4 linked regions of the Homo sapiens genome follow. The protein of the gene in region 4 interacts with the protein of the main gene of each other region in a pairwise test. Each region holds a gene or a part of one and is shown on either strand. Other genes may lie near its edges. The genes, in order: TARS2, RBP1, RMDN2 and TNFRSF10D.

Evidence for each region.
Region 1: the proteins of TNFRSF10D (region 4) and TARS2 interact in binary tests that used the Homo sapiens proteins (3 or more experiments, as listed by UniProt).
Region 2: the proteins of TNFRSF10D (region 4) and RBP1 interact in binary tests that used the Homo sapiens proteins (3 or more experiments, as listed by UniProt).
Region 3: the proteins of TNFRSF10D (region 4) and RMDN2 interact in binary tests that used the Homo sapiens proteins (3 or more experiments, as listed by UniProt).

What each region holds. Positions count from the first base shown.
Region 1 is NC_000001.11:150,490,417-150,497,443, reverse strand, and holds part of TARS2 (threonine--tRNA ligase, mitochondrial), read right to left. Parts: intron 6,844-7,027; coding exon 6,719-6,843; intron 6,051-6,718; coding exon 5,933-6,050; intron 5,847-5,932; coding exon 5,782-5,846; intron 5,100-5,781; exon of another isoform or gene 5,034-5,099; coding exon 4,955-5,033; intron 963-4,954; coding exon 816-962; intron 635-815; coding exon 536-634; intron 1-535. UniProt on the Homo sapiens protein: Catalyzes the attachment of threonine to tRNA(Thr) in a two-step reaction: threonine is first activated by ATP to form Thr-AMP and then transferred to the acceptor end of tRNA(Thr). Also edits incorrectly charged tRNA(Thr) via its editing domain.
Region 2 is NC_000003.12:139,516,935-139,522,766, forward strand, and holds the end of RBP1 (retinol-binding protein 1), read right to left. Parts: intron 1,589-5,832; coding exon 1,487-1,588; intron 747-1,486; coding exon 693-746; 3' UTR 504-692; downstream 1-503. UniProt on the Homo sapiens protein: Cytoplasmic retinol-binding protein. Accepts retinol from the transport protein STRA6, and thereby contributes to retinol uptake, storage and retinoid homeostasis.
Region 3 is NC_000002.12:37,920,928-37,928,291, forward strand, and holds the start of RMDN2 (regulator of microtubule dynamics protein 2), read left to right. Parts: upstream 1-4,359; 5' UTR 4,360-4,498; intron 4,499-4,603; exon of another isoform or gene 4,604-4,779; intron 4,780-7,364.
Region 4 is NC_000008.11:23,161,024-23,168,481, forward strand, and holds the start of TNFRSF10D (tumor necrosis factor receptor superfamily member 10D precursor), read right to left. Parts: upstream 3,005-7,458; 5' UTR 2,913-3,004; coding exon 2,763-2,912; intron 1-2,762. UniProt on the Homo sapiens protein: Receptor for the cytotoxic ligand TRAIL. Contains a truncated death domain and hence is not capable of inducing apoptosis but protects against TRAIL-mediated apoptosis. Reports are contradictory with regards to its ability to induce the NF-kappa-B pathway.

The sequences.
Region 1 (7,027 bases), on a different chromosome or scaffold from region 4:
CAGGCCATGCTGATTGCAACCACAACCTATTAAATACCAGGTCCCATCTCTATGCTCCCCGACTGCAGACCACACAATTGTAGTATTAAAGGTCACCAGCACTTTCAATATTTATGTTTATGATTCCAAACCAGCCCCCCCACCTTTTTTTTTCTCTTCAAGACGGAGTCTCACTGTATCACACAGGCTGGAGTGCAGTGGCTCAATCTCAGTTCACTGCAACCTCCCCTTCCTGGGTTCAAGGGATTCTCCTGCCTCAGCCTCCCCAGTAGCTGGGACTACAGGCGCTGCCACCACACTGGCTAATTTTTTGTATTTATTTTAGTAGAGACAGGGTTTTGCCATGTTGGCCAGGCTGGTCTCGAACTCCTGACCTCAGGTGATCTGCACGGCTCAGCCTCCGAAAGTGCTAGGATTATAGATGTGAGCCACTGTGCCCGGCCCCAACCCCCATCTTTTAACACAAACACCTTAGCTTCTTCTAGTCCCTCAGCCCCTCCCTGGTCTTCTTTCCTCTAGACCTGGGTCCCCTTACCCTGATAAACGCCACTAGTGCATTATACACCCTTGTCCCTCGTGGCAGGAAGAAGCAGCTCCCAGGGCTCAGTTCATGGAAGAAGAAGAGCTCCTGTTCCTGGGGTCAGGAATAGCAATATTGGGTCACCTCAAGGGCAAGGAGGTGGCTTTGGAACTCAGAACAACTGACGGAGCTGCTCAGTCTGTGTGACTGAATCTGCTCCCAATTTCATAATCAGGTTCTGTCATCTCTCTCCAACCCTTATCACCATCCCTCCCTATCTTCCCAATTCCTGTACCTTCCCAATGCGCCGGTGGTCCCGCAATTCTGCTTCCTCCCTCCATGCTTCCCAGACCCTCAGCAATTCTGTTGTGGGGAAGGAAATCCCTGACACTCTCTGCAGTGTCTCTGGGGCCCCTGAAGACCTCCATAAGGATGATGAGTTCTGTGTGAGGACATAGGGGATCAAAGGAAAGATGAGGACTGAAGGCCCCCACCTTTTTCAAGACTCAAATGATACTCTCAGTGTTAAGTGTCACAGGTATGCCTCTTGACAACAATCCCACCAGTAGGATGAACACCTCCATCCTCTAGACACCATTCTTCTAGATTAAAGTGTTGAAATTGCCTGACTCTTAATTCCTACATACAACCTGGTCAGGCCTAACCTTACCTTGCCATCTCTTTTTCTCCCCATTCTCATTACCCCTTTACTTAGTTCCTTCCCATTCTAATCAATGACTGCTTAGAGGAATAACCATAAGCTCTGGTCAAATGTCAGTCTATTCCTCCATTTATCAATATCCTATACAGCTGCTAGAAAAGTCAGTCTTCTATACCATATCCCATTCCTGGCCACATGAAATCCAAAAGCCTCTGCCTGCTCTCTCCTTTAACAGTACTAATGAGCCGGGCGCGGTGGCTCACGCCTGTAATCCCAGCACTTTGGGAGGCCGAGGCGGGCGGATCACGAGGTCAGGAGATCGAGACCATCCTGGCTAACATGGTGAAACCCCGTCTCTACTAAAAATACAAAAAAATTAACTGGGTGTGGTGGTGGGTGCCTGTAGTCGCAGCTACTCGGGAGGCTGAGGCAGGACAATGGCATGAACCCGGAAGGTGGAGCTAGCAGTGAGTCGCGATCGCACCACTGCACTCCAGCCTGGGCGACAGAGCAAGACTCCATCTCAAAAAATAACAAACAAACAAACAAACAAAAAAGTACTAATGAGAGGCCGGGCGCAGTGGCTCACACCTGTAATCCCAGCACTTTGGGGGGCTGAGGTGGGTGGATCACAAGGTCAAGAGTTCAAGACCAGCCTGACCAACATGGTGAAACCTTGTCTGTACTAAAAATACAAAAATTAGCCAGGTGTGGTGGCACGTGCCTGTAACCCAGCTACTCAGGAGGCTGAGGCAGGAGAATTGCTTGAACCTGGCAGGCAGAGGTTGCAGTGAGCCGAGATCAGGCCACTGCACTCCAGCCTGGGCAACAGAGCAAGACTCTGTCTCAAAAAAATAAAAATGAAATAAAATAAAACTGTTAAACAGTACTAATGAGAAACAGTCTATACGTGTGTGTGTGTGTGTATATACATCTGTCACCCAGGCTGGAGTGCAGTGGCGCGATCTCGGCTCACTGCAAGCTCCGCCTCCCAGGTTCACGCCATTCTCCTGCCTCAGCCTCCCAAGTAGCTGGGACTACAGGCCACCACCACCACACTCGACTAATTTTTTTTTTCTTTTTTTGAGACGGAGTCTCGCTGTCGCCCAGGCTGGAGTGCAGTGGCGTGATCTTGGCTCACTGCAGGCTCCACCCCCCAGGGTTCACGCCATTCTCCTGCCTCAGCCTCCCAAGTAGCTGGGACTACAGGCGCCCGCCACCTCGCCCAGCTAATTTTTTGTATTTTTAGTAGACAGGGTTTCACCGTGTTAGCCAGGATGGTCTCGATCTCCTGACCTCATGATCCGCCTGCCTCAGCCTCCCAAAGTGATGGGATTACAGGCGTGAGCCACTGCGCCCGGCCACACCTGGCTAATTTTTTGTATTTTTAGTAGAGACGGGGTTTCACGGTGTTAGCCAGGATGGTCTCGATCTCTGGACCTCGTGATTCACTCGCCTCAGCCTCCCAAAGTGTTAGGATTACAGGCGTGAGCCACCACGCCCAGCCCCTATATGTATATTTTTTGAAACAGAGTCTCACTCTGTTGCCCAGGCTGGAGTGCAGTGGTGCAATCTTGGCTCACTGCAACCTCTGCCTCCCAGTTCAAGCAATTCTCCTGCCTCAGCCTCCCGAGTAGCTGGGACTACAGGTGCATGCCACCACGCCCAGCTAATTTTTTATTTTTAGTAGTGACGAGGTTTCACCATGTTGGCCAGGCTGGTCTTGAACTCCTGAGCTCAAGTGATCCGCCCAACTTGGCCTCCCAAAGTGTTGGGATTACACGTGTGAACCACCGCACCTGGCCGACAGTCTGTATTTTACAGCACTTTTTAACTTTTCCTTTTTCCTGAATTAGTTGGTTTTCATTATCTTTTTTTTTTTTTTTTTTTTTGAGATGTTGTCTCGCTCCGTGGCCCAGGCTGGAATGCAGTGGCACAATCTCAGCTCACTGCAACCTCTGCCTCCTGGCAGAGTTCAAGTGACTCTCCTGCCTCAGCCTTTTTTGTAGCTGGGATTACAGGCGTAGGCCAGCACACCCAGCTAATTTGTGTATTTTTAGTAGAGACAGGGTTTCACCATGTTGGCCAGGCTGGTCTCGAACTCCTGACCTCAAGTGATCCGCCTGCCTCACCCTCCCCAAAGTGCTGGGATTACAGGTGTGAGCCACCATGCCTGGCCTGGTTTTCATTATCTTTATGAGGTGAATTTACTGGTAGGACAAAAAGGAATTAATAGCCTCATTTTATAGATGGGGAAAATAAGTAAGATTTACCCAAGGCCACCGCGCCATGGGGTTTTGCCATGTTGGCCAGGCTGATCTCAAGTGATCCACCCACCTTGGCCTCCCAAAGTGCTGGGATTATAGGCATGAGCCACCATGCCCAGTCTAAGTTCAGAGCTTTTTGCTCTACACATCTGCATTTCCCCTTGCTCCCTTGTAACTCATCCCATTCCATCTAGTAACTCTTCTTGTCCAGAACAGTATTTTCTTTTCTTTTTTTTTTTTTTGAGACGGAGTTTTGCTCTTGTTGCCCAGGCTAGAGTGCAATGGCACGATCTTGGATCGCCACAACCTCCACCTCCCAGGTTCAAGTGATTCTCCTGCCTCAGCCTCACAAGTAGCTGGGATTACAGGCATGTGCCACCACGCCCAGTTAATTTTGTATTTTTAGTAGAGACGGGGTTTCTCCATGTTGGTCAGGCCGGTCTTGAACTCCCGACCTCAGGTGGTCCACCCACCTCGGCTTCCCAAAGTGCTGGGATTATAGGCGTGAGCCACCATGCAGAACGGTATTTTCATAAAAAGCATGCCCTTTACTAAAGGTATTTTCCCTGTGCCTGTCAAATGGTGTTCATCTTCCTCCTGGACCACGCCCCCTCTCTCTACAACCCTTCCCTGTATGACCCATCCAGCTTGCTCACACCCTCCTGCTCCACCCCTCCACCCCCCTTAATACTGACATCATATTAGGGCATCTGAATTGGCTTCTGGGCCCTAGCAGGCTGTCCAGTGTGTGCCATCAAACGGGTTTTTAGAATGTGGGGACAAAGTTTCTTTCTCCTGTATTCCCCGCTCAGCTTATGAGAGTACAGGGCCAGGCTCAGTGGCTCATGCCTGTAATCCCAGCACTTTGGGAGGCTGAGAAGGGAAGATCACTTGAGATCACCCTGGCCAACATGGTGAAACCCTGTCTCTACTAAAAATACAAAAAGTAGCTGGGCATGGTGGTGCACACCTATTATCCCAGCTACTCGGGAGGCTGAAGCAGGAGAATTGCTTGAATCCAGGAGGCGAAGCTTGCAGTGAGCCAAGATCGCGCCACTGCACTCCAGCCTGGGCGACCGAGAGACTTGGTCTCAAAAAAAAAAAAGGGGGGTGCCGACAGAAAGTATCACCTTCCGATTCTCCTGCTCATCCCAGTGAAACCAGGAATTTTTTTTTTTTTTTTTTTGAGATGGACTCTCGCTCTGTTGCCCAGGCTGGAGTGCAGTAGTGCAGTCTCGGCTCACTACAACCTCCGCCTCCCAGGTTCAGGCAACTCTCCTGTCTCAGCCTCCCGAGCAGCTAGGACTACAGGTGTGTGCCACCACACCCAGCTAATTTTTGTATTTTTAGTAGAGACGGGGTTTCACCATATTGGCCAGGCTGGTCTCAAACTCCTGACTTTATGATCCATCTGCCTCAGCCTCCCAAAGTGCTGGGATTACAAGCGTGAGCCACCATGCCCGGCTCAAAATAGGAATCTTAACCTAACTCTGTCCCACAACTGACCGATAGCAGCTTCAGTCCTCCAATCTGTCCAGTATGCCGAAGGTGGGGGCCCTGGCAAAGGTCAACCAATGTGCCACACCTAGGAGAAAGAAGAGGCCAGTTAGTGATTTTCAGAATCTTCAGCTTCTAGCTTTCTCCCTCTCATGGTCTTTAGCTGACAGAAGAGGTGAAGAGAAAGGAACTGTCCTACTGAGAGAGGGCAATGGCAGATAAAAATCAATTCCCTGGCAGGGCGCGGTGGCTCATGTCTATAATCCCAGAACTTTGGGAGGCCAAGGTGGGTGGATCACGTGGTCAGGAGTTCGAGACCAGCCTGGACAATATGGTGAAACCCCGTCTCTACTAAAAATATAAAAATTAGCTAGGCATGGTGGTGCATGCCTGTAGTTCCAGCTACTCGGGAGGCTGAGGCAGAAGAATTGTTTGAACCCGGGAGGCAGAGATGCAGTGAGCCGAGATCGCGCCACTGCATTCCAGCCTGGGTGACAGAACAAGACTTCATCTCAAAAAAAAAAAAAAAAAAAAAAACTAGCCAGGCATGGTGGCACATGCCTGTAATCCCAGCCACTCTGGAGGCTAAGGCAGGAGAATCACTTGAACCCAGGAGGCGGAGGTTGCAGTGAGCCGAGATCGTGCTACCGCACTCCAGCCTGGGAGACAGACCAAGACTCCGTCTCAAAAAAAGAAAAAAAAAAAATCAATTCCCATTCCCATTTCTTTTTCTGGAGCAACACAAATTACCTTCTATCTTTCTTCCCTTATCGCATTTCTGGCCTTCTTCAATGCTTCCCCACCTCTCTGTTTGCCTTAATCTTGACAACTCTTACCCATATACTGTTGCTGTTGGACCTGTCACTTTCTCCTCAATCAAGTGAAGCTTAAAGGGGTTATCCTGGAAAAAGGTAGAAGGGAGATTGAAGAAAAGTGTTTATTCCCACAAAGATGTCCTGGAAGAGCCACCTCTTCCCTCCACCCCACCTTGAACAACTGGCGAAGCTGATCCCGTGAAGCCTCTAGCCTCCGGAAGGGTCGAGCAGCAGCTGTAAGTTCCTGGCAAATCCGCTCCAAAACAGGCAGCTCTGAGCCCCGGATTGTCCTGGAAAGAGGAGAATTGGTTGGGTTGCATCCTATGAGGTGCATCAATCACCTGGGTGACACACCTGTTGGCTAGCGGGTAAGGTCCTGTCCTTCAAGAGAAATCTAGAGTTATAGGCAAAGACAGACAAACTCAGAGAAAATATAAATAGGATATCAGGTAACAGATATTACAGCTGGAGAAAAAGCTCTATGCATGAAGTTAAAAGTTGAATGCAGGAAATCTGGATAGACAAAGTTAGAACAATAGTAATGAGGGCGATTAAGTAAAACTTGAATTTATGAAAGCTAACAAGTAACAAAGTAAGTTGTTTCTTCTTTTTCTTTTTGTTTTTTTTTTGAGAAAGTGTCTTGCTGTGTCACACAAGTTGGGTGCAGTGGTTAAGATCATGGCTCACCACAGCCTCAACCTCCCAGGCTCAAGTGATCCTTCCACCTCAGCCTCCCAAGTAGCTGGGACTACATGTGCACCAGCCAAGAAGGTAAATTTCAAGCAAAGTTAGAAGAGGGACATGGACTAGCACAGAAGGAGATACTAATGTCATAGTTGAGACCTAGAGAAACCCTTCTCCTCCAGCTTCCTCATCCAAATGGAGCATGCCCAAGGCCCCTGAAAAGAGCCTCAGAAACCATCCCAGAATCATTCTCCTCCTTCCTTTCATTACTCACCTCTCCTTTCCCAGGAAGAAATCATGGTAAAAGCCATATTCTGTACTTGGACCTCTGCAGAGAACAGCACCTAGGAATTGTTCAGCTGCTGCCCCCAGGACATGGGTGCTGGAGTGCCAGAACACCTGGGTTCACAAAAAAGGGGTTCACAAGTTCATAAACTTCTCCCTTAACCCCTAGATCTCTGAGCTCTTCCTCACAAAAGCTGGTAGGAAAGCCGGTATGGTTCTTCTAGGAATAACTACCACAAAATGGGGATCCTAGATTTTGGGGGTGACCACTAAAAAGTAACAAGCTTAAAAAAAAAGG
Region 2 (5,832 bases), on a different chromosome or scaffold from region 4:
CTGATACCAGCCCGTAGATGGGGTGGATGGTCTGAGGGTGGTGACATCTCATGACATCTCTGAAATTAAATCCAATAGGTAATTACTTATGTTTAAGTAATTTTATGCTTTGGGCTTAAAATTCTGTCCAGTTCCATTTCATTCACAAATAATGATGAAGCATCTCCTTGGTGTACTGTGCAGTTATATAGACATTCTCTGTTGGTTGGATCTCTAGGGTGGAAGGTATCTTCTCCTGCTTTTGTGGCACTCACTATACTTTGGCCACAATTAGATACATAACATGGTAGCTACTTGATACACAAATGATTGAATGTCAGGCCACTCTCCCACCTCCCATTCTAGACCCAAGCCTGTGCCTCTGGAGAGAAACACGGTGCAATTTCAGGACATGTGGCTGAATTTATCCACTCTGCCCATGGGTGGCACTAGGAGAAGCTGGCCTCAGAAGCCCTGGAGAAAAAGTGAGCACAGTGGGCAGTGAAACTTCCCCCAAACAGACGTTTTGAACACAGATCACTTTATTGGCATGGCTTTGTTTTAAGAAAAGGAAAAGTGACAAAGCCAAGAGACAGACTCTGCTAACAGATGCCTGGGGGTGGCTGGACATTTTTGCCTCATGCTGTGCAAAGAGGGGGATCCTGGCCCACACATCCTGCTGATTCCTTGGGACAAGGTTGTCTGCCTGGGCCTCACTGCACCTTCTTGAATACTTGCTTGCAGACCACACCTTCCACTCTCATCTCCTGAAACAAAAGCAGATGTTGGTCATTGGCCAGAGCAGAGTCACACTTACGGCAAGAACTCTAAAAATACTCATTGGCTGTTATTTTTCCCCAAGAGTTGGTTTAAGTAACCAATTGTTTGGAAAGACAGTTAAACTGTATAGTGGAGTGCTCTGCAGCACCCTACAGACAGAGCTGGCTGAGAGGAATGGATGTGGCTCAGAGCTGACCAACAGGACCCCTTGACGCTTCCCCTCCCGAATCACCTCCCGCTGACCCAGATTGAGATCATATCTTAGAGAAGCTTAGAGAATCCTTCTTGGCTTTGGCCTATACAATTTGGCATGGTGAATATATACATCATTTGGGAGCAAATGTTTGTTCTGTCACTTTCTAGTTGTGCAATTTGGACATGTAATCTAATCTTTCAGAGCCCCCAGGTCCTCATCTCTAAAATAAGAGCCATATTCCTATTCTGAGAGAATAGAGTTATAGAATGCAAAAGGGCTTAGCTCATTGCTGATGCTTAATGGATATAACTCCTCACCTCTTCCCTCTGATTAGATGATTGGGTCAGCCTAGACCTTGAAAATACATTGCTTGGTTTTTAAAGTCACCCAGGCATCTTTTCCAGGCCCTTGGAAGAGAAGCTTTAGAACAGAACCAAGGCCCATCCATGGTGCCTTTTTCCAAGGTCCATCTGGACCTCAACAATGACCAGGGCCTCTGGGGACCCGGCCTGACCCAGCCCAGGAACCTACCAGGTGCAGCTCATCACCCTCGATCCACTGGGTCCAGCCACGCCCCTCCTTCTCACCCTTCTGCACACACTGGAGCTTGTCTCCGTCCCAGCTCACTGTTGTCTGCCAAGAAAGAGACACATTTGTCAATCCTGAGCAAGCGGGGAGCTCCTGGAGGCTGGGGGAGGGGGCAGCTCCCAAACTTGATAATCTGGGATGTGCTCACGTCAATTTCATTGTAGAAAATCTGCAGCCTAATACTCCCTGTCCATCACATGCTTTTATTAAAGTGTGTAAATCAGTTTTAAAATTTATGAAAACCTTCATAAATTTTATTTAAAAGGGTAATTAGGAGGGAAAAAGTCATTGGAGTGGGGCTGTCATTGCAAGCACTGAGAATGGGGCTAAGGTGGAGAGGAGGGCCTGAGGGCTGAGCACAGCTGGGTGTGAGGGGTGAAGGATGTTTTCCAGAATCTTATGGTGAGGGGCAGACTTCTCAGAGTGTACCCTGACCATCCCCAGACACTTCATTCATCCATTCATTGTTTCAACCTATGCTAAGTCCTGGGATACCAAAAAGACCCCACCCCTGCCCTCAAAGCGCTCTTCATCTCACAGGGAGAATGACCTTAGATATAAATAACCCAGTGAAGGTACAAATGGCAGCTGTTAGCTGCCTACCTGCTCTGCCAGGCACTCTCTGTGCTGTCTCTGAAGCCTCATGCCTATCCACGTGAGCAGGGATTAGCATCTCCTTTTCACAGATCAGCTTAAGGGACTTGCCAAGTTCACCCATGTTGTTCAGTAGAAGAACCAGGTCTGAACACAGATCTGTGGGGCTCTGAAGGTCCCCACCCCAATGGACTAAATTGCTTCTTGAAGCGTTCATGGTCACCAGGGTTATAGGCCAGAGGCTGTGGGAGCCCAGGTGAGAGTCCAGGGAGTGGGATTCACTAGGGCTGGGCTCTAAGGAGAGAAGAATGGAGCTGAAGGAGAGGAAAGGAGGCGCTGTGGAGAAGAGCTCCCAGTAGCCCACCACCCGGTGAAGGCCTGAGGTGGGACAGCGGGAAGTACACTTAGGAGCTCATCAGGAGGGCACCAGGGAACTGAGGAGGAAGGCGAGGAAAATCCCACAGCCCAGCCTGGGCTTGGCAGAGCACAGATGAGCACTGTGACACCCTCTACACCCCACATTTGAGCCCCCACATCTTCCCTGAGCACTGTGAGCCCTGCCATGTGCTGGGCATGCTGAAGGGAAGACAGGCAGGAGGAGGAGGCCCAGCCTGTGTCCTGGGGAGATTTCAGTCTTAGTGGAGCAGAAAAGGCCCACCTAGCAACACGGGGCTGAAAAAAGTGTTGGACTTCAGAGGCAAGGTGGTCCTGTCATCCCAGCATAGCCATGAGTGTGCCCTAGACTGGGACACATGTCGCAGATGTGGGCACACAGAAAGTGCAGTGGGCATCACTCATATTTGGGGCTGCCCACCTTCTTTTGAATAGCCGTCCCATATGGGGCAGTTCTGTGTTATGAGCCTGGCCTCCCCACAGTAGTGCTCAGCACTCTGTTTGCCCCTTGCTCACTGTGTGGCTCTCAGCAAATCCTTCCCTTTTCAGGGCCCCTGTGCTCTCATCTGTCACATGGGGACATTAACTCAGGCCTTGAATGTAGAGAGCTAAGGTTCTAGGATCCTTGTGTTCCTTGCCATGCTCAGCTGAGTCAGGACAGTCAGCAACAGCCGAATAAAGGATTTGGGAGAGGAGACTTATGGGAGATGGGTGTGGCGTTAGTGGGGCCACTCCCTGCAGGAGGACCTCCCCACCCCAGGCCTCCCACCTGGGCCTGCTGATCACTACTGCCCCCTGCTGTTGGGGTGAAGCCTGCAATGCGACACATGCACGAGGGAGGCAGGTGGAGCCACATGTGCTCCCCCAGCTTTGCATAGGAGTAAGTCTGCTCTCTGCTCCAGAGAGAAATGGGGCATAAAAGGACTTGGGGGGCAGATCCTCTCTCTGATCCAGAAATTCACTCAGGGCACAGTCTAGTCCCAGGCTAGAGAGAACGCAAAACATAGTGTGGTTAATGTGTGGTGAGACATGTCATGGGTAAAGACTACTCATGACCTCATGCCATAAATAAGACAGGACACCCATTCACTTATCCGTGCTCCTTCCATCCCAGGCCTGTAGAGGGAAGTGGGGACCCAGAAATCAGTCCTCAGCTTCAAGAAGCTCATAAGAACACTTGGTTTCCTCATCAACTGATCTTCTCTTCATGTGTTTATCCAGAAGGCTACTGTGCATATGAAGGGTTCCGGATTCACTCAGAGGCACAAGAGACAATTGCTTGTTTTCAGCTATGACATACATTTTTGCCTCTTCTGGAAATATTAGTCAGGAAGTATAGTCATAGTCTTTGTATTGGAAAATTAAAAAAAAAAACACCGAAGAAGAAAATGGTAATAAAAATGATACATGTAGTTTTGTTTCTTTAGAGATGATTACTCTAGGCCAGGCGTGGTGGCTCATACCTGTAATCCTAGCACTTTAGGAGGCTGAGGCAGGTGGATCACCTGGGGTCAGGAGTTCGAGACCAGCCTGATCAACATGGTAAAACCCCGTCTCTACTTCTTTACTGAAAATACAAAATTAGCTGGGCGTGGTGGTGCATGCCTGTAATTCCAGCTACTTGGGAGGCTAAGGCAGGAGAATTGCTTGAACCCGGGAGGTGGAGGTTGCAGTGAGCTGAGATAATGTCATCGCATTCCAGCCTGGACAACAAGAGCAAAATTCCGTCTTAAAAAAAAAAAAAAAAGAGATAATTGCTCTAACATTGTATATGTTACAATGTATGGTAAATTTCCATCCACTCTTTTTTTTTTATATCTATCTATCTATCTACATGTTTCTGTTTTATACAAAATTAGGATTGCATCATTTATGGTTTCATATCCTCATTTCTTCATTTAATTGAAGCAACTTCCCATTTCAACAAATATTCTCCATAAGCATTATTTTAATTGCTACGTAATATTCTAGGAAGTAGCTACATAGTGTGTGTGTGGTCCACCACAAAATGAAAATGAGGGATTCTTTGCTCAAAATCATTAAGATTTTTAAGCTGGTGACAGCAGAGCATTAAACCAAGTGAGGGGCTTTCTGAGCCTGGGGCCCTGATGGACTGCCTTTGTCACAGGCCCACAAAACAGTCCCTGATAGTATTTGATTGTACATACATACTGTTATTTAGCCAATTACCTATTTTGGACATTTAAGTTATTTATTTATAATTCTGTGCTACTATAAATAAGACTTCTTTGTATACATAGTTTTGAACACATTGTTCCCTTAGAAGAAATTTCCAGAGGAGGAATTGTTGCATCAAAGAGTGTGCATATTTGTAAAGCTTTTGATGAGTATTGCCAACTTTATCTCCAGAAAGCTCACACCTATTTACCTTCCAACACCAGGGTCAGAGAATGACCATGAGAGAGATGTTTATTAATGGTAAAGCATGCTTTTGCTCCTGGGGCTACTGTGTTACCATTTCCAGATCGCTGGCATCTTTTAACAGGGGCCATCTGGATATAAACAATAATAATACCTTAGCCCAAAAGAATGACAGATGGCAGAATTTCAGGCAGCTTGACAGATTGAGGGATAGAGAGAGCAGAAGTCTGTTGGGGTGTAGAGGAGCCTTTCTGAGAGCCCTACAAACCAGGCTTCTTAAAGGGAAGGATCCCTATCACATGCATACTGCATCAGTCTCCCAGAAAGCCTTTCTTAACCCCAAGCTTCTGTTGACTCTGATACTGGACAAAGCAGAGATTATTTTCTTTGACCTCAGGTGATCCACCTGCCTTGGCCTCCTAAAGTGCTAGGAGTTGGACAAAGCAGAGATTATTCTTGTCTGTATTGGATGTAGAGGGGTGGCTGAGCTCAGAGAGGTTCCATGACTTTCTCTGGTCACCTAGTAAATGAGAGAAAGAATCTGGGCTGGAGCACGGGCTTTGCATGACTTGGTGCCCACTTGTTTCCCAGTCTAGGGCAGGGCACCTGCCAGGTGCCCACGAGATGGTGGCTAAAATCATTGGGGGCTGCAGAAAAACACATGGACATTGTGCTAAGACTCCGAGCAGACTCCTGGAGGAACACCCTTAAGTTCATTCCAACCATTGTGGGGGTATGGGTGCTGGGAGTCAGAAAGAGGTCTTAAAGATTTCTGCCTGTAGAGGTCCCCACAGAGAAGTGCCCAGGCTGTCATGGCCTCAAAGGAGTTTCTAAAAATGGGAGGGGCATTCTAGGCAGAGTGAAAAAGGATGAAAGGGGTAGGAGGTGATGAGGGAGAAATGACAACAAGCCAGTGTTGT
Region 3 (7,364 bases), on a different chromosome or scaffold from region 4:
AATACTGCGGAAAACCACTGAGCAAGGTTAGTACATGCCTTTTTGAAAATGACTTTTTTCATGGAACAAAAACTTAATGTTTCTAATGAAATAGAAAGTTTCTAATAAGAATTCTATATCTTAATTAGGTATGTATACTTTTAATAAATTGATTCAACATTGAACTGCTAAGTAGCATAACATAAATATCGTTGTTAATTTTTCTTTCATACATATCTTCCTAAAATACCATTTTTAATTTGTTCAGTATAGGAGTATTAGGCCAACCATTTTATTGGATTTAAGTGATTAATAATTTATTGCACTAATCACTTAGTCTATGGAAATATTTAATAAGCTTATCCTAATGCTTTTTTCAGATAAAACATTTTTACCTTAGAAAGTCCAAGTTAGTTTCTTTTCAGAAATTTTTTTTGTAATTTTCCTGTGTTCTAGAGACTGCCTAATTTTTTTAAAACTACATCAGACATAGTATTATATTCCTCTTTTCCCCAAATTCTATTCCTAGCCTAACCTGAATATCATAAACACAAAGTAATTTTATACTCTGTGGATTAGAGGTTGTGGTAAACTGCAGAAAACCCCCCATGGGGCAAATGATCAGATTTGAGAATTCAGTTTCTCCTCTAACAGAAGCAGTGAAAGCTGAACCCTAAATAACTGAAGTGGGGGATACAAATGATGTAATATCACATTAGAAGGGCTATGATGTTCTTGTAAATGGTGCTATGAAGAGTCCCTTCAAGTGTTCTATCAAAGGCAGGGTCTGGGGGTCCAAGATGGGCTGGGTTAAGAGAAAAGGCTCTCAGACAAAGTTAAGTTTGATATTTGTCTCTAAAACTGACTATGTGGCCTGGGACAAGTTTCTTCACCTCTTGAAGCCTTGGTTTCCTCACCTGTATGTTATTTACTTCATTAGATTGTTGGGAAAATGGAATAAGATAATTCATATAAAGAACGAAGCTTGAAAACTGTGTAGAAGACTCAATAAATGTTCCTGCTGTACCTGTTGCTGCTGCCCTTTGCTCCTCCTCGTTTACAAATGATTCGGGGAACTCAGAGCTTCGGTTACACCTGGGGGACTTCTTCCTCTGCCCCTGCTCTTTGCCTGTGCGCTTCTCCCTCTCTAAATCCCTCTCTCTCAATGGTTAGGGTGTTCTTAATTTAAAAGTTTTTCCCCAGCTATTTGCAGTAAAATATTTCCTTAACCCTTTCCTTAAAATACTTTCTTAAAACCAGCCTGGAAATGAAGGTTGATTCTGCTCTTTGAAGCGGGGGTTGGGGATTTCATAGTGGTACTAATTATACCTGCAGCTCAGCCTTCAGTTTACAAATTAAGAAATTCAGCTTGTAAGTTTGATAAGATTTGGAAATAACAACAAGGAACTAGAAAATGAATAGTTAACTATATAGCATATTGGTAACTGTTAAAGGGTTAAAACTAACTTTGTCATTCAATTGCTTCCTGGAAATAAAACCACTCAAATAAAACCTAAAAAAAAAAAAAAATTGACACTCCCATCTCACATTACTATAATGAAGGACTATACATTTCCTCATGCTTTTCCCTCAAATGTACATACTACTTTCAAATAGTTATCTAATATAGAGGGTGTGCACCATGCCAGGTTCCCAAGATACAAAGATAAATGCTACCATCCTTGAAGATGTTCACAGCCTCACAAACACACAGTCACTGGCAAGCAGTAATTATATAGTGTACACCAGAGAGGTTTGCTGTAAGCTAGCAGGGAGGCATTTTGTATTCATTGAAACTCCTGGTCCTTCCATAAGTTTTGATGGGGCATGGATGAATACTTCTTATGGGGAAGGAGAGAGTGTGTAGCTTCTCAAGGGAAAGAGGTTGAAGTGGTTGAATTGGTTTTGGACGGGTGGCAAGCAACAGGATATTCCAGGCACAAGGAACAGGATAAAAAGGATACAGCTTGTGGAGAGACGATCAGTAGCTTAGCTAGTGCTGAAGTGTAGAATGATGTCTGGTGGAAGTAGCGGAGAAAAGCTGGAAAAGTAGGTTGGGGCAAATCGTGAAGGGTCTGTACCCACTCCTCCCAAATGATTGTCATGCCGTACTGGTTTGATGAATAACAGCAACTCTGAGATTCTTAGTATGTTCTGGTTTTTCCTTCAGATATTCCTTTTAGACTGACATTCCTAGTAGTGGGGAGGGGAATCATTTCTGCTTTTTTATGTCACCCCTGCAACAGTACCTGGCAAAGATAGCGCCTGTCTTTGCTATTTAGTTACAGCTTTGCCAAGGTCAATGGTTGTCACTGTCCCTGAGTTTCTACCTTTCAGATAATTTTTACTCATCAAGGAATAGAAACAAATGTATTGGAAAGGAGCAAGTGTGACATAGTCTATGTCCTGAACCTGAAGATCAAGTCAGTATCAGCTGCCATCTTCCTCTTGGAATAGACTGGTAAGGCCTTGTTCACAGCCCATACGTCACATTTTTATTGAAAGCCTCTTCTGTGCAATGTGCTGGGGATGCAGCAGTGAACAACTCAGTGGGCTCCTGGAAAAGCTTAAATTTTGTTTTAAATACTGAAAAGCTCCTTTTAAGTATTAGCGAAGAGACAGTCATGTTTCTTTGGTATCTAAATCTTGTTAAAAGAGAAAATTGTTTTGCATGATCGGTTTATATCATATTGTATTCTAGTTAAATAAAGCTAGCATTATATTGCAAGATTGCTGCAAACCATAATAAATAGGAGTGAAGTGGGTTTGTAGAAGGTAATATTTTACTAGTTCCAAATCTGAGAGGTTAAAGATTAATCTGCTCTTTTTCCAAATACAACTTAGGTTTTTGCTCTTGTTTTTTGAGACAGAGTCTCATTCTGTCCCAGACTGGTGAGCAGTGGCCCGATCTCGGCTCACTGCAACTTCTGCCTCTGAGGTTTAAGCAATTCTCATGCCTTAACCTCCCGAGCAGCTGGGACTACAGAAGTGCGCCACCACACTCGGCTAATTTTTGTATTTTTAGTAGAGATGGTGTTTCATCATATTGGCCAGGCTGGTCACGAACTCCTGGCCTCAAGTGATCCGTCCGCCTCAGCCTCTCAAAGTGCTGGGCTTACAGTCGTGAGCCACTGCGCCCTGCTACAAATTACTTTTAATAAAATGACCATGGCCAGGCTTACTTATTCTTCAATGCGGCTTGCCTGAAGCTCAAAAAATCATCTTAAAGAGCCTATAGAATCCCTGAATCCCTATCCGTAAACAGTAGTATATGGATTGCAAAACAAGCCTTCTGGATTCTTCATGGCTTTATGGGTGTTGTCTGCTGTTGCTGTTTTGAGAAAGAGTGTACCCATTTTTAATTCTGCTCAATATATTGGTGGGAAGTTTAGAGATTAATGTTATGCAAACCTAAGCTTGAGGCAGTAATACTCAAGGTGCGGACAATACAGAAGCAGTGTATGTACTGTTTTGTTTTTGTTTTTGAGACGCTCTATCACCCAGGCTGGAGTGCGGTGGCGCGATCTCGCCTCACTGCAACCTCTGCCTCCGGGTTCAAACGATTCTCCTGCCTCATCCTCCCAAGTAGCTGGGATTACAGGCGTCCACCACCACGCCCGGCTAATTTTTTGTATTTTTAGTAGAGACAGGGGTTTCGCCACGTTGGCCATACTGGTCTCGAATTCCTGACCTCAGGTGATCCGCCTGCCTCAGCCTCCCAAAGTGCTGGGATTACAGGCGTGACCCACCGCGCCCGGCCCAGTTTTTAAGAGCGTATTTAGCAGAATTAGTTTCATTATACAAACCACAGAAAGCTGGGTAAAACCTTAAATGTCAGGCATCTGAAAAAACAGCGGCTTTCATCTAAAGGCAACTCGGAATGGCGGGGAGAAGGAAGAGGCTGTCAAAATTGCTCATTAAAAGAAAACGTGAGATAAAGCTATGAACACGGGGCTGCAGATATCAGTAATTAGTGCAAGGCGTCTGCCTTTAATTCAGTCGTGAGGAGTAAAGTGCAAGGTTGTGCCTAGAAAGGGCACAGAAAAAGGTTTAACTAGGGGAGAGGGAGTGGGTTTGAGAGCCGGAACGAAGCGAGCTGGCGGTGGGCGTGCGGAGTGGCAGCAACGCGAGAGGGAACGCGCTGGGGCTAGCGCGGAGGCCCAGAGCCCAGGCGGGGGAAAAGGTGCCGACCGGCTTCGAAGGGAGGCGACGGCCGAGACACACGGTCCGGCGCGAGCCAGGCGCCCCGCGACGTGCAATTTTATTTTGCAAAAGGTGCACCCAACGCCAGTCCCGGTAGAGTTGAACCCACCACGAGAGGGAGAGGGGGCGGGAGCGGGGGGCCGAGCGGCCGCGGGCTCCTCCCCCGGCGCCTCCGCTATCTGGGTCAGGACGCGACGGCCGCGGCGCGGGACCTTAGGACCCGCGGGCTCCAGGGCTACTGTCCGTCCGCCACTGCGCGCCAGCAGGTCCTGGTCTCCGCTCTCCAACAGCTGAAAGGCCGGCGCAGTGAACACAGGTGCGTGCGCAGTCTGGGAGGGGGCTGCTCAGCCGCTGGGGGCCGGACCGCGCCGGGGACTTGCGGAGGGAAGCGGAAATACTTGCGGTGGGGGCGACTGCACTTCCGGGTCGGTGTGTCCCTGGCGAAGCTTGAGCCTGCTAGCCAGCGGTGCTCTGCGTTCCCGGGGCTGGAGCAGCGGCCCATAGTGGCTTCCCGGGTTCATCCCTCGCTGACCCTGCGCCACGGAAGCCCTAGCCCCGGAGGTCGCTGGTATTTCCTCGCACGCGGACCCTTCTGGGGTGCGTGGGGAACAGGCAGTTTGCTGCCTCGGCCCGGCTGGTCCCTGCAAACCCCAAAGAATTTCAACAGAGACACTTGCTGGGCTCTCGCTCGGCTTTCAGCCTTGCGCAAACATTTTGTTTTTGTTTGTGTGGGGTTTTTTTTGCTCTCAGACTCCGTCTGTGCCTATTTCACACAAAAACGAAGGCCGGATTATCAGTGCTGCCAACATAGGGGAATGAGGCAAACACTTGGGAGCCCTAAATTTAAAATAAATTATAAAATACAAAAAAACCATGAAAACCTGATGAAATGAACAATAGAATTCACTTCGAAAGTACCAGGTTTTCCAGGACGCTGTAGGAAATCTGATCACTAGTTCAAGGTCTCAGTGCAATTCTCTTAGGAAACTTAAACCTCGGGCTTTTTTGTAATGTCTCTTTATCCTTGCAAAATTTGTCATACCTTCCCCGAGTTTATTAGAGTTATGCATTTTATATTTTTCTCCTCTAAGGGTCTGCTGATGAAGTTAATGAATATCTGTGCTAGATTTATGGTGAAAGCATTATAATTAATTTAGTAAAGCATAATTTCTACATCAAAAAATTAATTTTAAATAAAACTAGAACATGGAAATGAAATGTTTCTTCAGACATTTCTTCAGAAAACATTTCATATTCTATTTTCTTTAGAGTCAACATTTTGATGTCATTTTAGAATACTTGATTCTCATCTCAACCTTTAATATTACACAATAATACACATTAATTAAGTGCCATAATCTATATTAAAATGTCATTTTCCATTGTTATTTACTAGCACCTTACAAATTGAAACGTAACATAATACTTTGTATCTGATTATTAAAATATTAGAGTTTTAAAATCTGTTTGGTAAAGTTTTTAATTACTATATTTTTTTATACTACAAGTGTATACTATTAACATAATTAGAAGTATGAAAGCTAACAAGGCTGGAGGCAGTGGCCCATGCTGCTTATCCCAGCACTTTGAGAGGTGGAGGCAGGATTGCTTGGGCCCAGGAGTTCGGGACCAGCCTAGCAACATAGGGAGACTCACTCTCTACAAGTAATGTAAAAATTAGCCGGGCGTGGTTGCCCACGCTTGTGGTCCTAGCTACTAGGGAGGCTGAGGCAGGAGGATGACTTGAGCCCAAGTGGTCGAGGCTACAGTGAGCAGTGATTGTACCACTGCACTCCAGCCTAGGTGACAGAGCGAGACTCTAAAAAAAAAAAGCTATGTAAATGACTTCATACAACCTTTGAAATTATTCTGAAGGCAAGCAAGTACTCTGATGTATTTTGTACATTATTTTTAATGTGTCATTTTTCAAATTATCAGTGTTGAAGCACATTTGTTTTATGCTGTTATAAAACTCAAACATAGCTTGAACTGTTAGTCTTTAATTGTGTTTGTTTAAAACATCAGCTCCGTTGATTCTATTTTTTTCTAGTTAATTTTTGTGGTTCTGAAATAATATTTCAGCTTTGAGCATCTCTGTTCAGTCAGTACTCTCCTTCACCTCCTTGTTGATGCTTTCCAAATCTCCCACATGTTGTGGGTGCATCCAAGAGTTAGGAACAGGTTGTCAAAGGTGACAGTTTTCACTTCCCAGTTGGGTGATCACTGGGTAAGTGACTTGACACCTGTGTGCCTCAGTTCACTTATCTGCAAAATAATAATAGGACCTGCATGGAAGAGATGATTTGGAATTGGTGCAGTTCCTAAAGAAAGGGCCAAGCAAAATAAGACTTTCCCACCTGCTGAAACCTGGTCCTGTCTCAAGAATAAGTTCTCCTTCCTAGGTAGATTTTTACTTCTACTTATTTGCTTATTAAATGAAAATATTTTCAAACTAGGCTATATTTCTTAATGTAAAAGTCCAAGGTATGGGCAAAAGAAAGCAATCAGAATAGGAAGATTTCCTTTAATAGACCTCTATATCAGCGAATGGACATCCTGCCTGAATAATTTTATTGACAAAAATAAAGATGATTAAACTTGATGTGTGAATATTAGCTGGAATGCAGTTGTAATTAATGGGCATAGAGTGACTTATTTTTTTGCAATAAGCTTTCAAGATAATTTAGTTTTGTGATACAATTTTTTTGTAGAATACATTTACACATCTAGCAATAATTAGCTACAATTTCAGCTGAAGTTACAAATTGATTGGAATCTGTTGCTGGCATGTCTCCTGGATGAGCTGGGAGTGGGCAGATGGTTATAGTTCCCAGTTATACCAATTAGGTGAAAAAAAATTTTTTTAAGTTAATTCCAGGCAAATTTCTGTGAGGTAAAGCAGGCCAGATTAAGTACCAAGGCTTTCTCTGGAATCTTTGGTTTAAAAGAAGGAATTCTTAAATCTCTTGGATATAATATTCACTAACACCTGAGGTAATTTCTGGAAGATTATTTTAAAGTCAGTCCTTCTCTTTGACACTTAGGCCTGTAATGAAGTGTAGAACATCCAAACAGGATACTTTCTGTGTTCCAGGCATATACTCTAGTGAAATAGGAATCCAAAGACGTTCTTATTTTAAGCAGGCTTTTCAGAAATAGATTATGGCTGCTTGTTCTCTCAG
Region 4 (7,458 bases):
GAGGTGCAAGTAGGAACAGGTGCAGCCTCTGCTGGGTGGAGGACATGTGCCCTGGGGATCCAGTCCGGAGTGACTGACACCAGCCCTGAGGATGTGGTTCATCCTCCCACACCTGCTAACACAGCCCTCTGAGGTTTACACAGGGCTGCTGAAGATTTTTATCTCCTCTTCACTTTACAGGCAGGAGCTGGGGCCACACCAGTGTCACAGAGCTGGAGGGGAAGCACAGCAGGGCCCAGCTGTTCCCAGCCTCCAATCTCAGGAGTCCTTGAGAGCCTCAGAGTCCGAGATTCTGGGCCGTTGGATCTTTTCGATTCCTACTTTGATAAAGAGAAGGGCGGGGCGGAAGCCTCTGTCACACAGATTGGAACAGTCCAACGCTGACAGAGCCAGGACCTGGGGTCAGGAACTGAGCTCAGCTCCAGGCTCATCTGATGTCCTCCTGACAGCCTGAAGATGGAGACCTTATCTCCATTTACAGGCGTGGCAGGTGGCAGGGACTGGCCCCAGCTGACCACGGTTCTCCAAGTTCACAGCTGGGAATTCAGTCTTCCCTGCCACCCTCCCCTGCTGTCTCATCTGGATCCCCCGGTCATCTACTCCCACTACCAAAACTCCCGTATCCTTGAAAATTCCTAATACCATTAAGGAATGAAAGTACATAACAATGTGATGAATCACCTTTTACTTCCTAGACTAGCAACGAATGAAAGCTAAGTGTAACAAGGGTGTAGGGATACAGGCACATGTGTGAACTAGGTGTGAGTGTAAGCTGAGTTCAATGGTCTTTTGGAAGAAAATTCGTAAACATCTAAAGAAACTTCTGAAATGATTTATCCCACGGAAGTAGAAGTAAAATTCTACTTCTAAGGAGTTGCCCAATAAGCTGGTGCGCATGGACATGTGGACACACGATACATACAAGGGTATTTAGTACAATGCTGTTGGAATTAGCAAAGGCAAATTTGCTTTGGGTTATATCCCATCGGGATGGGATATAACCAGCTGCCTCTAGATGGCAACAGTGAATTAACCTGTGGCTTACCCATGTAGTAAAATACAATACCCTTGTTTAAAAGAAAATCAATCTGAATGTACTGCCATAAAACATCTAATGTGATTTGTGCTAGCTCCAAAATTTTAAAAAGCAACTGTGCATTGAAATGCATTTAATAAGGCAAGATTGATGGAGGGATCAAAGCCTCCTTTGGGACGCATAGAGTTCACATTCCCAAAACTGTGAAATTCAGGTTGCTGGTCTTGTCTACACAGGTCATCCACACATTCTCTCTTCAGGGCCACTGTCCTGACACAGCCATTCTTCTAGCTGCCTCAGGTAGGTCCACCCACTATAAACTATTGTAGAAGTCAGTTGTGTAATTTTTGAGAGGTGAAAATGTCACTGCTGTTCTGAATTTAGTATTACTTCGTTGAAAGAAAACATGGAGACTCTCATGGTTCATGTAATCTTGTTTTATCCTCCCCGTTTTGTTTTTTGGTATTACGTAAGAAACCTTAGAAAGCACTGTTGGCAGAAACGTCAGTCACTCAGAAAAAGTCCTGGCAGTCTGCACATCTTATTTTTATGTCCTTCTTGTGCACCCCACTACCAATCTCAGTTTCCAAACCCAACTCACAACGAGAACTTTACATCTTTTATGCCTAAGGAAGGGGCCATCCCGCGGTCCTGCCTATGGGATACAGAGGGGACACACGGGTGGCAGTGGAAGACACTGACTGCAAGCACCTTGGTTAACCGCTTCCTGCCACTTTCAGGGTTCTATAGGAAATGAAAGTTACAAAAAACAGCGTTGGAAAGCTTTTTCACAGGCTGTTTGTTAAACTGATCTCCAAGAAACACGTGTAACAGTGTAAACATAGGGTTAATTTTGTTTGTTTGTTTGTCTGTTTTTGTTAAGGCAGAGTCTCGCTCTGTCGCCCAGGCTGGAGTGCAGTGGTGCAATCTCGGCTCACTGCAACCTCTGCCTCCCGGGTTCAAGCAGTTCTCCTGCCTCAGCCTCCTGAGTAGCTGGGACTACAGGCGCAGGCTGCCACGCCTGGCTAACTTTTTTTTTTTTTTTTTTTTTTTTTTTGAGACGGAGTCTCGCTCTTGTTGACCAGGCTGGAGTGCGATGGCGCGATCTCGGCTCACTGCAACCTCCGCCTCCCGGATTCAAGTGATTCTCCTTCTGCCTCAGCCTCCCGAGTAGCTGGGATTACAGGCGACCGCCATCACGTCCGGCTAATTTTTGTATTTTTAGTAGAGACGGGGTTTCACCATGGTGGCTAGGCTGGTCTCCAACTCCTGACCTCAGGTGATCCGCCCGCCTCGGCCTCCCAACGTGCTGGGATTACAGGCGTGAGCCACCGCGACCGGCCTGGGTTAACGTTATGAACGAACGAACGAACGAACGAACGAAAGAGGCAACCGCTCTGTGGCTTCCTGAGGTTCACTCCGGGGTTTCCATCTTGACTCCCTCCCTCCGCTGATTCTGGAACTTCCTCTGGGGCAGCTCAGTGCGGTCCTCGCCGCACGGGACAGCCAGGGGGAGCGCGCGCTCTGCTCCCTCGCGGCCCGGTCGCTCCTGCCCAGCCCGGGCACCCCACTCTTCCCCTGACTCCGACGGCGGGTTCGTCCTGCCCAGACATGCCCGGCCGCAGGCGACCCGGGCCAAGCATCCCCACCGTGTCCCCCTCTCTCCCTGCCCACTCCCGGCGCCAGGTGCGCTCTTCCCCAGCCAGGGACCGCGGCGGAGACTCACCGGCAGCAGAACCGCGACGATGAAGACGACGAACTTAAGGATCTTGGGGTCCAGGAGCCATGGTCTGGTTCCCGACGCTGTCCTGGCTCCTGGATAGCGCCCTGCTCGAGCGCTCGAGGCGGTCGGGACGCTTTGTCCCCAAAGTCCCATGAGAAGGGAGGAGGGTGGATCGAAAGCGCCAAAAATCAATCAGAAATCGTCCCCGTAGTTTGTGCGCGTGCAAAGGTTCTCGCAGCTACACTGCCAGAATAGAACGTGCTCCTCCGCTTTTATACCCCGGAAAAAAGGCGTGGTCAGTTGTACTCCCTTCCCGCAGTCACTTCCAGGCACTCAGGCTGGGTCTCCCCCAGCACCTCCAGGAGGGCCCAGGTTGTGTGGGTGGGTGCATGGACGGACAGGAACTGGCTCTTTCCGGCAGCGGTGACCCAGGGCCTGCGGTTTGATTCCGGGTCCTGTCCAGGCTGTAGGCAGCAGAAGGGGAAGGAGCTGAGGCGCTGCCCGCTGCGCTGCTGTAGTCTGGGTAGTGAGCTCCAGAGGAGGCACTGGAGGCCCATCCTGAGCCTGCTCCCTCCCCGGGCCGCCTGTCTCTCCTCTTCTTAAACCCTGAACTACTTCCTGGCCTCAGGACTTCAGTCCACTCTTAGCTTCTGCTCCCACTCCCTCCTCCCACAGCGGCCTCACTGACCAGTGCACTGATGCCACTGATGTCTCCAGCCTCCTTGCTGCTGTGACCCAGCTCCAAGCTTCTCTGGCAGGGGCTTGGTATCCCTCAGTAGCGGGTGCCTGGCACCAAGGAGGGGCCCAGTGAACACATGAGTGGACAGAATGAAGGACACAGAGGCCATGACAGGCACCTGCAGAGGCTGAGGAGTAGGTAGGAGGGAGAGGAACGCCGGGGGCATCCCTAGCCACAACCTGGCACCCTTTGCATGGTCAAAGCACAAACACTCCCTGACCAACCTTGAGGGCTCTAGTATTGAGGCCCCATGGAGACAGGGGAATCAGGGGAGTGCCTTCCAAAGTCTGTCCCCAAGTCTATTGTCTACCCAGGTCCAACTGTCTGACCTTGGGCTACTTACCTCCCCATCCAGTTGAACACACTGCCGCTGTGAGGGCAGACCCAATGTGTGGTTTTGAAGGGTGCCAGCTTGTGACCCTAAGCAGTAAGGTCAATGGCAGGACTCCTAGACCCTTGGGATGAGTCGGCTCCTGACCCCTCACATGGTAGATAGAAGAGGATAGCGCTATAGAAATGAAGGTTTTTTGGCTCATGAGAAACCTGGGAATGAAATGTCATCCTCTCCACAGGCTTGGATTTGAGCGATGGATCACCCTGAGCACCTTCCAGGGCCCAGACAATGACCTAGGGTCAGAAATGTGAGCCAGGGCCGGGCGCGGTTGCTCACGCTTGTAGTCCCAGCACTTTGAGAGGCTGAGGTGGGCGAATCAAGAGGTCAGGAGTTCGAGACCAGCCTGGCCAACATAGTTAAACCCCATCTCTACTAAAAATACAAAAATTAGCTGGGCGTGGTGGCGGGCACTTGTAATCCCAGCTACTCAGGAAGCTGAGGCAGGAGAATTGCTTGAACCCAGGAAATGGAGGTTGCAGTGAGCCGAGATTCGTGCCACTGCACTCCAGTCTGGGTGACAGAGCGAGACTCTGTGAAAAAAAAAAAAAAGAAAAAAAAATGTGTGCCAGGTCCCAGGCACTGAGCTAGGGTCAGAAATGTGCGCCAGGTTTCAGGCACTGAGCTAGACTCAGAAATGTGTGTCAGGCCCCAGGCACTGAGCTAGGGTCAGAAATGTGTGTCAGGCCCCAGGCACTGAGCTAGGGTCAGAAATGTGCGCCAGGTTCCAGGCACTGAGCTAGGGTCAGAAATGTGTGCCAGGTTCCAGGCACTGAGCTAGACTCAGAAATGTGTGTCAGGCCCCAGGCACTGAGCTAGGGTCAGAAATGTGTGTCAGGCCCCAGGCACTGAGCTAGGGTCGGAAATGTGTGCCAGGCCCCAGACACTGAGCTAGGGTCAGAAATGTGTGCCAGGACCCAGGCAATGAGAAATGTGTGGGGTCAGGAATGTGTGCGGGGTGCAGATCCAGGCAGGAGGTGAAAGGTCAGGGACTTCAGGAAGACTGACAGCATTAACACAGAGCCACCAGGGCCTGCAGGAAAGTCCTTAGAGCACCTTAGCTCCCTTGGCCCTGGAGGGTGGACCACACAGTATAGACCAGAAACCAGACTGCAGGTAACAACGCATTCTCTGTGCCCTGTGTGGAGCACTGACTAGGGCTAATGGCAAAAGGCTGTGAGCACCTCCAAGGAACTGGGCCTTTAGAGTCAAGTTTCCACTTAAGAGGCACTTACTAGCTTGAGATGGAACACTAACTGAAGTCTCCCCTGTCACTGAAGGACATAAAATAATCTTGAAACCTGAAAAACTGATGATGTCTTCAGGAATCTTGGAAAAGCTCTAACGGGGAGGCCAGTCCCAGAAGAGTTCTATTACAAAATGGATTTTTTTTTTTTGAGATGGAGTCTCACTCTGTTGCCAGGTTGGAGTGCAGCACGATCCAGGCTCACTGCAACCTCTGCCTCCTGGGTTCAAGCGATTCTCCTGCCTCAGCCTCCCGAGTAGGTGGGATTACAGGCACATGCCACCACGCCTGGCTAATTTTTGAATTTTCAGTAGAGACGAGGGATCTTCATGTTGGCCCGGATGGTCTCGATCTCTTGACCTCGTGATCCACCCGCCTCAGCCTCCCAAAGTGCTGGGATTACAGGCGTGAGCCACCTCACTCAGCCTAAAAAATGGAAATGGTTGATATGGGATCCTGGTGCCTGAGGAAGGCAAAGAGGAGACACTCATGAGCAGGGAGCCTCTGTTCCCCTCAGACTGAGTCTGGAACTGGGTGAGGAGCTGCTGGATTCTGTGGTCACTTGGACATTGCCCTATACACAGCTCTTTACTTACTGACCAAGAGCTACTTAGTTTGTAGACAGTCATTCCTAGATGAATGGACAACATCCTACTTGGAAGGCCACCCCTCTGATGGAAGAAGGCAAAGGCAAATTGGCTAGGTGGGTTGGATTGCATGCTATTTTCCTAGCCTTATGGAAGATTTGAACAGCAGCAAAAGCCCCTGTACTTGAGTTTTTTTCTGGCTCATGGACAGTCGTCAATGTCCCGGTCATAGAGTTGGGAAGGAGAATGTGAAAGTTGATCGCACAAATTGGGTCATTCTTGTCACACCCAACTAAAACAGAGTCAAGAGGCCATGGGGAAGAAAAATCACTGTATTACCCCCAAACTGCAATTCTCTGTAAGTCTGGCAGCTGTAACGTGAAACTATTAATAGTTCTGTCTTATATCTATTGACACAACCAGCTGCTGCTCTAAGACCAGCCTGACCCACTGCAGTCACTCACCAGTCAGAGCATGCCACTTCTTCAAATTTTACAGCGCCAATGAACTTTCTGCAAAAAAAAATACTTAGTATTTCTCATTTAAAAAAAAACATCTGGCCGTGTGCGGTGGCTCACACCTGTAATCCCAGCACTTTGGGAGGCCGAGGCAGGCGGATCACGAGGTCAGGAGATCGAGACCATCCTGGCAAACACTGTGAAACCCGGTCTCTACTAAAAATACAAAATAATTAGCCGGGCGTGGTGGCGGGCACCTGTAGTCCCAGCTACTCGGGAGGCTGAGGCAGGAGCATGGCATGAACCCAGGGGGCGGAGCTTGCAGTGAGCGGAGATCACGCCACTGCACTCCAGCCTGGGCAACGGAGCCAGACTCCGTCTCAAAAAAAAAAAAAAACTTCCAAACTTCTCTTTGTTCTTTGGACGTACCAAAGACAACTTGGTCTTTGTGTATGCCAAGAATTGCAATTCTTACTTTCCAAATAAAGGGTATTAAATTTGGATATTCGTCTCTACATTTTCCATTGTTTCCAAGAGTAAGGGGAAACTGACCTAGTGTAGGGATGTCCATATGAGGCCCGACCCTATGGAAATCTCTAGGGGAGCTTGAGGAGTGCATTAAAGTAAGACACGCCCATGCTGGTCAGTAGAACCCACCCTCAGGTTTAGAAAGTGACTGTAATCAGCAAGAGATACCCCCGTGTACTCCCTTGAGGTGGTCACCAGAGGCCACGAAGCAAAAGAAGTGGATATGGGGGAACCACAGTGACGCAGAGATGGGCTGAATCGAAACACATTCCTCTTGCTCTCTCTCAGGCACATGACACCAATAAGAGCTGTTCTGTCTAGCAGCGGGAGAGACAGAGACTGCCTATAGCTATGAGGCAGATTCCCTGATGAGGAGGCCCTCAACATACTTGGAAAGTGAGACTGAGGGCAGTGCCCTGGGGGGTACAGGTGAGTCTCGACAGCAACAGAAACTGACTGTGGATTGTCTTTTCCTTACCTGGTGGAGGCTGCAAATGCCCAGAGTGCTATTAATATAAAAGAACTGAAAGAAGGTATTATTCTAGTTTGGACCACTAAACCGAACTTCCTTGGACCGAGAAACAGGCTGTTCAGTGCATAATGTTTAGCAATGGGCAGAGAGATATCCTCCTTAGAGTAATAATTTGATAGGGAAGCGGAACAGTCAACTGAAACATTGATTGTCTAAAATGGGGGGAGACACAGGCATGAAGGGCTGGCTTCCACACCTTCACTGGTGTGTGCCCCTAC